Homo sapiens: one gene and its partner. The protein of the gene in region 1 interacts with the protein of each later gene in a biochemical or structural test. Each region holds a gene or a part of one and is shown on either strand. Other genes may lie near its edges.

Region 1 (7,037 bases):
ACACCCGTTCTTACTTCCAGATGCAGTGAAAACTCACTCCCTCAGGACAGTTCTCTTGGTCAGCCTCGTCCAGCGTTCACTGTGCTGTTTCCATGTCTACCACTTCTGCACCAAATGTGACTTCTTCTTTTTTTTTTGAGACGGAGTCTCGCTCTGTCGCCCAGGCTGGAGTGCAGTGGCGGGATCTCAGCTCAATGCAAGCTCCACCTTCCGGGTTCACGCCATTCTCCTGCCTCAGCCTCCCAAGTAGCTGGGACTACAGGTGCCCGCCACCATGCCCAGCTAATTTTTTGTATTTTTTTAGTAGAGACGGGGTTTCACCATGTCAGCCAGGATGGTCTCCATCTCCTCACCTCATGATCCGCCCACCTCGGCCTCCCAAAGTGCTGGGATTACAGGCGTGAGCCACCACACCTGGCTCAGATGTGACTTCTATTGCCAAATTCTTCTTCATTTCTAGGATGGGACACACTACCACAGCCCTTTTATAAAGTCCTCAACTGACCCAGCCGACTCACCTTTCTCTCCTGGAATGCTCCCTTGCCATCTCCCTTCTCTTCTGTCTTTCCCATTCCCGGCGAGCTTTATCCTGTTCTTCTCGATGCCGTTTCCGACGTTCGTGCTCTCTTTCTTTTTCTTTCACTCTAGCATGCTTCCCTAATGAGAAATAAAGTGTCATGCAAAGAAACCTCACTTCAAAAATTTCACATGAAGCCGGGCACGGAGGCTTATGCCTGTAATCCTAGCACTTTGGGAGGCTGAGGCGGGCGGATCACCTGAGGTCAGGAGTTCAAGGCCATCCTGGCCAACATGGTGAAACCCCGTCTCTACTAAAAATACAAAAATTAGCTGGGCGTGGTGGCAGGCACCTGTAATCCCAGCTACTAAGCGAGGCTGAGGCAGAAGAATTGCTTGAACCCGGGAGGCGGAGGTTGCAGTGAGCCGAGATCACGCCACTGCACTACAGCCTGGGCAAAAAAAAAAAAAAAACCCACGTGAAACTGAAATTAAGACCGGGCGCGGTGGCTCACGCCTGTAATTCCAGCACTCTGGGAGGCCGAGGTGGGCGGATCACAAGGTCAGATCGGGACCATCCTGGCTAACACGGTGAAACCCCATCTCTACTAAAAATACAAAAAATTAGCTGGGTGTGGTGGCGGGCACCTGTAGTCCCAGCTACTCGGGAGGCTGAGGCGGGAGAATAGCGTGAACCCAGGAGATGGAATTTGCAGTGAGCTGAGATTGCGCCACTGTACTCCAGCCTGGGTGACAAGCAAGACTCCGTCCCAAAAAAAAAAAAAAAAGAAATTAAATCAAGAACAGTAAATATTTAAATAAATATTTAAATAATGATGTTAACGTTAAGTAATCCTAATTTTTCTTTTTTTTCTTTTTTTTTTTTGGAGATGGAGTCTTGCTCTGTCGCCCAGGCTGGAGTGCAGTGGCGCAATCTCGGCTCACTGCAAGCTCCGCCTCCCGTGTTCACACCATTCTCCTGCCTCAGCCTCCCGAGTAGCTGGTACTACAGGCGCCTGCCACCACGCCCGGCTAATTTTTTGTCTTTTTAGTAGAGACGGGGTTCCACCATGTTAGCCAGGATGGTCTTGATGTTCTGACCTCGTGATCTGCCGGCCTCGGCCTCCCAAAGTGTGGGGATTACAGTTGTGAGCCACCGCGCCCGGCCTTTTTTTTTTTTTTTTTTTTTTTTAAAGAGACAGGGTCTCGCTATATTGGCCAGGCTGGTCTTGAACTCCCGGACTCAATTGATCCTCCAAAGTGCTGGGATTACAGGCCTGGGCCACTGCACCCAGCCGAATAATCATGATTTTATGTTAAATAAAAAACTTTGAAAATAAAAAACTATCTGCAGTAAGCGTCTAATTATGAAGAAAGAAGAAAAAAGAAAAACAATTCTGCTATCACAGAAGAGCAGAATTGTAATATTCGTCTTTTAAAACTTTTCCATACTGAATAAACTATAATTATCAGTTTTATAATACAAAAATCACTCTTCACAAAGACTACAGAACAAAGCTTTGCTATCAGTGGGCTTCTCCACTGTGCAATGAAGCCACATTAATTAATCAAGTGTATTTATAATCATGACATTTCAATCGGGCTCCAGGTCCAATTTTCCTAACACCCGTAAGAACCTCCTGATGTTGGTACGAGATCAAACTGCTCAAGCCAAACCCATTCTTTGGACTTGAGCAAATACCCATTTTGGGGTGTGTTTTTCTCCTATACTTGTTGAATTCAGGTCATTTTAAATGTAAACAAACTGCTTCCAAACAATATAATGGGGGAGAGAAAACCCCAGAGGAAAAATGGACTAGCCATTCTGAATGGTCTGTGACACACGCACGCTTTCAGCTAGAGTTTGCTCTCTCTGGTTTTCGGTCTGTGATACACGCATGCTTTCAGCTGGAGTTTGCTCTCTGTAGCCCCTCTGAACGGTCTGTGACACACGCATGCTTTCAGCTAGAGTACTCTATAGCCCCTCTGAATGGTCTGTGACACATGCACGCTTTCAGCTAGAGTACTCTCTCTATAGCCCTTCTGAATGGTCTGTGACACACGCATGCTTTCAGCTGGAGTTTGCTCTCTCTGGTTTTCGGTCTGGGACACATGCATGCTTTTAGCTAGAGTTTGCTCTGTATAGCCCTTCTGAACGGTCTGTGACACACGCATGCTTTCAGCTGGAGTTTGCTCTCTATAGCCCCTCTGAATGGTCTGTGACACACGCATGCTTTCAGATAGAGTATTCTCTCTATAGCCCTTCTGAATGGTCTGTAACACACGCACGCTTTCAGCTAGAGTTTGCTCTCTCTGGTTTTTGGTCTGTGACACACGCATGCTTTTAGCTAGAGTTTGCTCTGTATAGCCCTTCTGAATGGTCTGTGACACATGCATGCTTTCAGCTAGAGTTTGCTCTCTCTGGTTTTTAGTCTGTGACACACACATGCTTTTAGCTAGAGTTTGCTCTGTATAGCCCTTCTGAATGGTCTGTGACACACGCGTGCTTTCAGCTAGAGTTTGCTCTCTCTGGTTTTTGGTCTGTGACACACGCATGCTTTTAGTTAGTTTGCTCTCATAGCCCTTCTGAACGGTCTGTGACACATGCATGCTTTCAGCTATTCTCTCTATAGCCATTCTGAATGGTCTGTGACACACGCACGCTTTCAGCTAGAGTTTGCTCTTTCTGGTTTTCGGTCTGTGACACACGCATGCTTTCAGCTAGAGTTTGCTCTCTCTGGTTTTCGGTCTGTGACGCACGCATGCTTTTAGCTAGAGTATTCTCTCTATAGCCATTCTGAACGGTCTGTGACACACGTATGCTTTCAGCTAGAGTTTGCTTTCTCTGGTTTTTCAGTGGTGCTCTGGGGAAGGCAGAAGAGTAGGAACAGGAAAGAAACCACACTTGAACATGATGTCAAAGAAAGTAAATGCTTCTGTACCCCCTTCTGCTGAATGGCTACGATGCCTACGTTTCTCTTTTCTCTTTTCATCTTTTCTGTGATGAGCTTTTTCTTTCCGAGACATTTGCTGGGGTGGTTTGATGGCCAAAGAATCATCTTCTTCTCCTCTGAAATAAAACACAACAGCACTGCATCATGCTTGAGAAAGTGCAAAGAAGCATCAGGCTATTATAAGGTTTCTTCAACCCAGAAAAATGCATGATTCAGACAGGAACAAAGCTGAAACATCATTTAAAAAATTACATTAATTCTCCAACTTTAGGCATCTTTTTTTTCTTTTTTTCTTTTTTTTAGACAGTCTCGCTCTGTTGCCCGGGCTATAGTGGCACGATCTCGGCTCACTGCAATCTCCACCCTCCGGGTTCATGCCATTCTCTTGCCTCAGCCTCCCGAGTAGCTGGGACTACAGGCGCCCGCCGCCACGCTGGCTAATTTTTGTATTTTTAGTAGAGACGGGGTTTTACCATGTTAGCCAGGATGGTCTTGGTCTCCTGACCTCATGATCCGCCCACCTCGGTCTCCCAAAGTGCTGGGATTACAGGCGTGAGCCACTGCGCCCGGCCTGTATTTATTTTTTTGAGACGGAGTCTCGCTCTGTTGCCCAGGCTGGAATGCAGTGGTACGATCTCGGCTCATTGCAACCTCCCCTTCCAGTCCCAGGTTCAAGCAATTCTCCTGCCTCTGCCTAAGGAGTAGCTGGGATTACAGGCATGCGCCACCACACCCGGCTAATTTTTTTATTTTTAGTAGAGACGGGGTTTCACCATATTGGTCAGGCTGGTCTCAAACTTGTGACATCATGATCCACCCACCTCGGCCTCCCAAAGTGCTGGGATTACAGGTGTGAGCCACCGCACCCAGCTTTATTTTTATTTTTTTCAGATAGAATCTCGCTCTTTCCCCCAGCCTAGAGTGCAGAGGCACAATCTTGGCTCATTGCAACCTTTGCCTCCCAGGTTCAAGCAATTCTCCTGCCTCAGCCTCCTGAGTAGCTGTGACTACAGGTGTACACTACCATGCCAGGCTAATTTTTGTATTTGTAGTAGAGACGGGCTTTCACCATGTTGGCCAGGCTGATCTTGAACTCCTGACCTCAGGTGATCCACCTGCCTCAGTCTCTCAAAGTGTTGGGATTACAGGCGCGAGCTACTGCACCCAGCCATTCACATCATATTTAAACAAGGGCAGCTCATTTTATGTTATTTATTCCCCAATAAATCTGTTAAAAGATCCTACAATTTTGGCTGGGTGCAGTGGCTCACGCCAGTAATCCCAGCACTTTGGGAGGCTGAGGCAAGTAGATCACCTGAGGTTAGGAGTTCAAGACCAGTGTGACCACACAGTGAAATCCGTCTCTACTAAAAATACACACACACACACACACACACACACACACACACACACCCGAGCGTGGTGGCGCATGCCTGTAATCCCAGCTACTCAGGAGTCTGAGGCAGGAGACTCACTTGAACCCGGGAGCTGGAGGTGGCAGTGAGCCGAGATCATGCCAGTGCACTCCAGCCTGGGCGACAGGGTAAGACTCTGTGTCAAAGCAACAACAACAACAACAAAACAATCTTCATAATCTCAAAGCGTCATTTAACAGTATCTTCAGCTGATTTCTGTATCACCAAAATTCTGGGAAAATTCACACCTTAAGCTTCTCAGGAAAACCATTATACCGTAATTTCTGGCTGTGTTTCCTTTAATTACTAATACCTGATGACGTATACGAGCTAGATATGAGAAGAAAACAAACGAGAAACAGTTCATGGCACAGGAAGAAACGTCGGAACACACAGGTCTCAACAAGAACATTTCCTTTTTTTCCACACAGGGTCTTGCTCTGTTACCCCAGTCTCATCCATTTCCTTGTCTCTATTCTAGGCTCTGTCAGGGGTGCTTAGAAGCTAGGCCCTGAAAACCCTGATGATGACCATGAGGGGCACCTGCTATGGCAGGAAAACTCATTTAGTTTTTCTCATCTTCTTTTTTTTATTTTGTGTAGAGACGAGGTCTCCCTGTGTTGCCCAGGCTGGTCTTGAACTCCTGGGCTGAAGTGATCTGCCTGCCTCGGCCTCCCAAAGTGCTGGGATTACAGGCGTGAGCTGCCGCGTCCGGCCAATATGAACATTTCTCATCAGCGGCCCTCCTCAGGTATCTTTCAGCATTCTACTTTATTTGTGCAAAATCTTTTTTTTCCTTTTTTTTTTTTTAGAGGCGGGGTCTTGCTCTGTCGCCCAGGCTGGGGTGCAGTGACATGATCTTGTCTCACTGCAAGCTCCACCTCCTGGGTTCACGCCATTCTCTTGCCTCAGCCTCCCGAGTAGCTGGGACTAAAGGCGCCTGCCACCACGCCCGGCTAATTTTCTGTATTTTTAGTAGAGACGGGGTTTCACTGTGTTAGCCAGGATGGTCTTGATCTTCTGACCTTGTGATCCGCCCACCTCGGCCTCCCAAAGTGCTGGGATTACAGGCGTGAGCCACCGCGCCCGGCCTTTTTTTCCTTTTAAGACGGGGTTTCACCATGTTGGCTAGACTGGTCTCGAACTCCTGACCTCAGCTGATCAGCCCGCCTTGGCCTCCGAAAGTGCTGAGATTACAAGTGTGAGCCACCACACCTGGCCTGTGCAAAATCCTATATAGTATATTTTATTAATCAGTGTAACACATGGCAAAGTTCTTTACAGAAAGAAGGGGCAAGGGTCTGGAGGGCCACAGACAACACTTGAGAGTCAGTCACAACTGTGACATAAAAACCTCAATAGTTACGCTATGTCACAGTAACTCTAGGAAAGAGTAAACCTTAATAGTTACAACAGCACACAGTTGTCACAGCGACCCTAGGAAGGACCGGCCAGGCCAGGGCTGTGTACAGCTGGGTCTTGCACATCTGTACATCCGCTCACCTGTCTTCCATAGAGTCTTCTCTTCTATACGGGGAGTTCCTTATTGTGATCTCCATGCGGTGATCTCTCAGCTCCCCCTCCTCAAGGGAATCCCGCTTGGAATCCCGGTCATCAGACTAAGAAGCAAAGAGAAAGTTAATCATTTTCTTTATAAGTTTTTTTTTCTTCATAGATAAAAGTATTTTTAATGATAATCAAACCTGGGCAACATCCCAAAACAAACTTTCATATATACTCTGAATGAGCCAGTGTTATAAAATATAAAGAACTTTTGGCCGGGTGTGGTGGCTCACGCTTGTAATCCCAGCACTTTGGGAGGCCCAGGCAGGCGGATCACGAGGTCAGGAGCTCGAGACCACCCTGGACAACACAGTGAAACCCCATCTCTACTAAAAATACAAAAATTAGCTGGGCGTAGTGACCGGAACTGCTTGAACCCGGGAGGCGGACATTGCAGTGACCCGAGATCACACCACTGCACTCCAGCCTGGCGACAGAGTTAGACTCCGTATCAGGGAAAACAAACAAACAAACAAACAAACTTTAATTCAAATCTTATCACATTAAAATTACAACTCTCTGTAATCTGAAACCTGAGATGAGAAATTTAAAAATAGCATATATGACAAGGGACATTAGACTCTATGCC
Region 2 (7,037 bases), on another chromosome or scaffold:
CAACAATCCAGAAGAGACTTTAAAATGTATTTTAACTATTCTGGCCATGAAAAGTGACCCAATTCTTCACTAATTCCCATCAAAATGAGAACCATGTGTTATACATCCAAAATGCTATAAACCTGAACAACATTTACTAAAATGAGATCTCAGACCTATAGTTTTATCTGCACGCCCACATTGCTCCTAGTAACTGCTGATTTTACAGCTGAGAAAATAAAACTAAGAAACTAAGTTAACGAGGACACACAATGTTGATAAGCACTAGCACTGGGATTTAATCCTTTTTTTTTTTTTTTTTTTTTTTTTTTTTTTTTTTTTTTTTTTTTTTTTGCTTTAGTCCAATGCTCTTTCCAGTAGATCAGAACTGCCTAACTTCATCAAATATTTCCACTCTCAGATGGGCAAGGAGCCAGGGGGAAGGTCAGGTCCCAGTTCCCTAACAAGAATTTCTGGTACACTGCTCAGTGTTTCACAAAACTACATTTTAGTTCCTCTGACATATTCATAATTTTTCAAGAAAAAATATATTCACCTTCAACATTTTTTTGTTTGCAGTGTTCTTGCCACAGTCTCTCCTTAGCTGTTCACTCATTGCTTGCAGCTCTCGTCCAAAGTGGATCATTCTTTCTATGGCGGCCTGACTTCCTCCACACAACTGGCGTCTCAACTGACTTGAATCAACTTCTGTAAGAAAAACAGACAAGTATTTTACTACCTTATGGAATGGAGTATAATGAGGACACGAACATACATTTCTTATACCATTTTGTACATTTAGTAACTATTCCCTAATATTTCATCTAAATATGCAGATTGTTAAAAATTCATTTTTAATATGAAACTGCAGCTAAAAGATATACTTTATTTAGCTCTCAAGAGTCTAGGATCCAGTATTCAGCATGCAGTTGAGAGGGGACAACCTTTCAGTGTTAGAGGGTACTTATGTCAGAAAAAAATTTTAGAAAAAGTATAATTCCCTAAAACTACATTAAGCAACATTTAAAAAAAAAAAAAAAAAAAGGAAAACTGTTAATAATGCCACTCAGGCTGCCTTAACTGACGTAGTAGAGATGTAATAAAATGCTCCTGAAAGCTAAGAAAAGCTAAATGACTACAATAAAAATACAGAAGACAGCATATTATACTAACTGAAAAGATTAAATGCACTACTTTTAGAAAAATACCACTTTGAAAAAATAATTTTTTTTTTTTTTGGATGGAGTCTCACACTCTGTCACCCAAGCTGGAGTGCAGTGGTGTGATCCCAGCTCACTGGAACCTCTGCCTCCCAGGTTCAAGCAATTCTCCTGCCTCAGCCTCCTGAGTAGCTGGGATTACAGGCACGCGCCATCATGCCTGGCTAATTTTTGTATTTTTTAGTAGAAATGGGGTTTCACCATATTGGTCAGGCTGGTCTCAAACTCCTGACCTTGTGATCCGCCCACCTCGGCCTCCCAAAGTGCTGGGATTACAGGCGTGAGCCACCATGCCCAGCTAAGAAAATAGTTTTATATATCTTGATTGATAAAATAATTTAACTGTATAAATTACTTATAAGTCATTAAAAATAAGGTAATGACGATGATGATGGTTAATATTTCCCAAGCACTTTGTGCTATTAGCTTTTTGGATTATTCATTTACTTTCACAATAACTTATGAGGTCGTTATTATACCCATTTTACAGATGAAGAAACTGAGACACAGAGCAGTTAAGTAATTTTTCCAAGGTCACACAGCTAGTAAATGGCAGTTTTGCAGAAATCAAATCTATGTAATCTGGCTCTAGAACTCCTGCTCTTTATCACTGTACTTAAATTACTCTTCAGAAACTGAGGTGGCTGATATTGAAGAGTAAAACAAAGCTGCATTTCTTTTTAAAAAACAATTTTAGTAATACCACTCAATCTCAAAATAATAAGAAATCTAACATTGCCATGGAATTCCAACAAATAAATGAAAAAATGTAATCCAACAAATAAATTTTCACTCTCCATTTGATGGGATAGTTTGCTGATGGGACAGGCAATTTACTACTTAAGTTGTCTACAAAATAAAATTATGCATGCTAATGTGTCTTGGAGCCACATAATTTTTTTGTTGGTGGTGGGGTTTTTTTTTTTGGTGAGGGAGGTCATACTTAAGCACCTACTATATACCAGGGATAGTACTATGCAAAGTCACACACGTTTACGTTAAACTCATTTAAGAAATACTGATTAGAAATTTGTAAAATCATCTAACCATTTGGCCTTACTGACTATACTGACATAAATATAAGAAGTTCTATCATCTCCAACCTAAAATAGCCTAGAGGCTCAACACCAGTAAGTCAGTACTGCTGCATTAGTGACAGCGCTAAACCTGAGCCTAAGCAGTTCAGCAAGAAACACTGCCTGTAGCTGAAAGGTAACTCTACTTTCTCTAGCAGCCCACTCAAACAAGAGTTTAAGTGCTATGCATTACTGTCAAGTCCTACAGCACATACATCTTTAAATCTGGTTTATGCTCATCAGCTGTGAATCAGTACAAGTAAAAACATAACCTTGTAGCCATCATTTTTTATTAAAAATGTAAGAAATATCACTGCAGACCCATTTCGGTGTCACAATCTTCCATTTCGTGGTCATGTTTAGAGCTACCATTTAGGAAACCATTGGATGAAGTTTCTCCAACTCCATTGGAGTAGTGATCTGTTTCCATGTCTACATCATTACTGAAAACGAAAAAACAAACCTAATTTTAGAAATATCATACTTGCAGCTTAGTTTAAAATAAATCACTACTGAACTACATAGCCTACGAATAAACTAATTTCATAAGGCAACAGAAATCTGCAAAAAAGGTATTTAGTTAAATCTTGAACGTATTCAAAGCCAAACATGTCGCTGACTTTTAACAAATTTGTACCCCCGGAGGTAAGGGAGGAAAAAAAGTACATATGCTAAAATGTAGTGGTTTTATGACTTTACATCAATATGGAGAAATCATACTTCCACACAATCCTATTATTTTTCAAATTCAGATCTGTACGTCTTCGTTAATCAACTGCTGCCCCACCAACTCCCCAGCCAGCCCTCTCCCCCTACCCCCAGCACTGATTTCTAGTATGTAAGGGGAAAACCTCACTCTCAAAACAAATACATCTCACTCCTGGAACCCGCTTCACCTCGTTCCGGACCTCATACTCAATCCACTCCTAGGCTGTTTTTAAATAGCATTCTGGCATTTGTCCTCACTACTTAAAAATATACATTCTTTCAAGGGTAACTGATAACTTAAAAAATGATTGAGCTTCATTCTCTCATCCCTTTTCACCACACGACAGAGAGTGAACTCACAGGCTATCTTATTGGCTAAAGTATTGCTGAATCTTAACTTTTAAACTGATGTCCTGGATAGTTTCCAGTTTTCACTCATTCCACTCAATGAATATCTATCTGCCAATAACTATATTTGCACATATTTAAGCTGTCAATGTATGTCCTTCAGAACCATCCGCACTCTTATAAGCAACAATAAATATCTAATCTTTAGGATTTATCCTATGGAAGCCTAGGTAATAATTATACAATCTAGAAGTAAACACTCGATGAAATTTTAGGTAATGCTTAGATAAAAATGACATTTCTCATTACAAAAGCAATATATATTCAATTGTAGAAAAAAAAACACAGATGAGCAAAAACCACTATGCGTAATACCACCAGAGGTAACAAATTCTAACACCTTGGGGGTGTGTGTGTGCATGCATACACTCCTGTTAGTAAAATTGTTAAGGTAAAAAAAAAAAAAACAAGAGATCTAGGGAAAAGGGGGATATGGCCCTACGACTCCAGAGCAGACTTACTCAACCAGGAAAGCTTGTTTATAATCTTAACAAACTTCGAAAATTGGTAAGAAAAACCAAACTTTAAGAATAAGAAAATCCTTACCATCACAGCTTTCAGTGGCTTTTTAAAAAATACTAAACTTTTTTTTTTTTTTTGATAACTCAGTTTAGTATTTGGAAGGAACTCGTTCATTTAACACACATTTAAGAGCCTCTGAGGTATGATCCCTGTTAGGTGCTAAGGATATTATGAAACAGCCTCTGCCTTCCTGTAGCAAACAACCTATAAAAAGCTAATTAAGTTATTATATTACAGAGTAATTATGATCAGTACTATGATGGAAGTTAATCACAAAACATGACATATTTGATGGGATGTAAATCAAGGAAAACATCCTGGAAGAACTGACATCTGAACTTGAATTTTCTCAGCCTGGACAGAAGTTATACTGGAGGTGAGGGAGGGTAGGAAGAAGAGCATTTCAGATGGTGGGCGGTATCAGGGAAAAAGCACAAGTTTGCAAGTCAAATCCTGAAACGCAGCCTCAGCTCTGCAACTTACTAGCTACTAATAATTGACCTTAAGAAAAAAAAGTCATTTACTTTTCTGATATCCCGCTCTACATCTGTAAAATGGTTTAAATAGTTAATACCATCTTTGCCTACTTCACAGTTAGGAAAGCCATTACCAACTACAAAATAACTTATAGCTTAAGGCAGTTCAAAGTTGACTTTCTTTCCCTTTTATACTGCAGACAAAGGAGGATGTTGTGTCATCAGACCCTTCCGTTAAGCTTGCTTCCCTGAACTCAGGTAATAATAGATCTGTTTAGCAACTTCCTGCTGTAGGGATAGTATTCAAGAGAAAAACTCACAAACTGACTGCAATCTTACCCTCAAACATTGGCAAGAGCCTTGATCAATGATAAAGTACCAATGCATTTAGTATAAAGCATGATGAAGTACTTAACTTTTTACATTTCCATCTATTTTTAAACTATAATATTTTGATTTTATATTTTCCAATATATCACCTCTGCTGTGAAAGACGATTTTTCTGCTCTTCTCATACACTTTTGTGGTTCTCCATTACAACTTATATCAATCACACACACTATTACTTCAGTAAATTTTTGTCACGTGTGACAGACAACCCAGAAATTGAGATTAATCTCCCAATTTTCAAATACAGATTTTTTTTTACATACAATCCTTTCTGCAAAATCATATTTCCATTAAGATTCCATGCTAAAAGTTAGGCTCTCTCTCCTTTAATAAGAAAATGTGGCACTGATGACCATTTCCTGAAAATGCAATGTAACCAACTGGTTTGTTATAGACCAAACCAATATTAAATTGACCCAGTCCTGGATGATTTGGGCAGGGTGAATTCACAATAATTTGCTACTGCACAGTAGTATTTAATTCAAATAATGTCACTTCATGAACTTTTAGGTTTCATAAATATTAAACCTGAGTATATCAAGGGTCATAGTACACTGACTGAGATATCATCTTTCAAACCTCTTCAAAGTGAGACACCCTACCTAGCAGAATGTTTGGTGCCCAACAAATCCTCAAAACCATCCTCACACCAATGTTTACTAAATGACTTAACCATCTGCTATATGCAAGCTACTTAAAGGCAGGCTTTCAAAAAAGATTATTTGTAAAGTTAGTTTTGAACTTGGAAAACATTCTACACATTTACACCAAAAAAAACTCACACACAGAGAAAAAATCAGTTGTAAATTTATCTTATGTCACCGTTCAAGGTTAAATATGCTACTGTGTCTTAACCACTGTGAAAACATAACAAATGGCATTTATGTGATCATTTGTATAGCTCTGTGGCTGGCAGGAAGACAATGCATGAAGCCCTGAATTTGTCCTTATAACTTTACTAGAGGGAAGAAGGTAGTAGAGAAGAGGAAGAAACTAAGGAAAGAGCTCATGTGCATAATAGGAGACTAAAAAGCTTTGGGGAACTGACTCCCTACGCTTTTATTCTCTGGGGGCTTAAGAACTCCCAGAGCCCCTCTGTGGGTCACATAATTCAAGTTCTTTCAAAATTATTACAACGATTACACCTATAACTAGGTTGCTTATATTAGTGCAAAAGTCAGTGAAATTACTTACCTGGTGAAGTTATTAACTTGCTGTGATCTTGACATATTTATACTGTTTAGTTCTGGTACATTCAAGTTGGATGACTGGTGTTTATTACTATGGCAATATGATTGATGTGCTTTATTTGATATTACACCATTACTACAACTTTCAAAACCTGAAGAAAAAGATACCACGTAGAAACAGAAACAAACACTAATTTATTAATACGGTTGTAAACAAGTCTCCATGTTGATTTTGTACTAAGACTTCTAGAACGTAGGAGAGTCAATGGATGATGTAAACAGGTAACTTCTTTGAAAGGATACTAAGAATACTTAATTGTGAGATCTTAATTATTACCTCATCTAACATTTATTGAAGGCTTAATTACACATCTCATTTAATCCTCAAAATCCCCCTAAAATGGCAATATTATGATCATCCCCATTTTACATATGAATACACTGAGGCTCAGAATTTATCCAAGCCTGAAGTGACTGTATGATATTCAAGAGGAGTAGTGGCTAAGAACAGACATGGGAATCACACTTGTTGTACAGAGTGGTGATGTAAATAAACTGAGAGGAAGTAATGCAGAAAAGAGAATAAATTGAAATAAGAAAAAGCAATGGTGTTACTTCATGAAAGGAAAGGAGACACTATCTGACTTGTTTAAGAATGTTAAATGTACAAAGATAACATCTTGGGAAATGCAGAATTAAAGAGATGGGCAAACAGAAGACTGAGAAGCATCAGAAATAAATCTGTGGCTGGGCACGGTAGCTCACACCTGTAAGCCCAGCACTTTGGGAGGCTGAGGCAGGAGCAGTGCTTGAGGCCAGGAGTTTGAGACCAGCATCAGAAACATTGCGAGACTCCAACTCTTTAAAAAGAAACAAAAACAAAACCAAAAAAACCTGTAGAAGTGATGTCACAAAAGCCAAGAAAGGAGAGAATTTTAATTAAGAGAAAGCCCAAAGTCACAGAGAGTAAGACTGGTGAGCCAACAAACGGATGGGAGAAAACGAACTAGGCAGAGCTGACTTTTGCAAGAGGCTTGGTTGGGAAAGGTTGGGGGTGGGGGGAGAGGA

Evidence for each region. The genes of interacting proteins can lie anywhere in the genome.
Region 2: the proteins of CDK11B (region 1) and RANBP9 form a complex in vitro, tested with the Homo sapiens proteins (one study listed by BioGRID).

What each region holds. Positions count from the first base shown.
Region 1 is NC_000001.11:1,648,981-1,656,017, forward strand, and holds part of CDK11B (cyclin-dependent kinase 11B), read right to left. Parts: intron 6,505-7,037; coding exon 6,389-6,504; intron 3,587-6,388; coding exon 3,459-3,586; intron 658-3,458; coding exon 519-657; intron 1-518. UniProt on the Homo sapiens protein: Plays multiple roles in cell cycle progression, cytokinesis and apoptosis. Involved in pre-mRNA splicing in a kinase activity-dependent manner. Isoform 7 may act as a negative regulator of normal cell cycle progression.
Region 2 is NC_000006.12:13,631,835-13,638,871, forward strand, and holds part of RANBP9 (ran-binding protein 9), read right to left. Parts: intron 6,122-7,037; coding exon 5,974-6,121; intron 2,719-5,973; coding exon 2,597-2,718; intron 688-2,596; coding exon 536-687; intron 1-535. UniProt on the Homo sapiens protein: May act as scaffolding protein, and as adapter protein to couple membrane receptors to intracellular signaling pathways. Acts as a mediator of cell spreading and actin cytoskeleton rearrangement.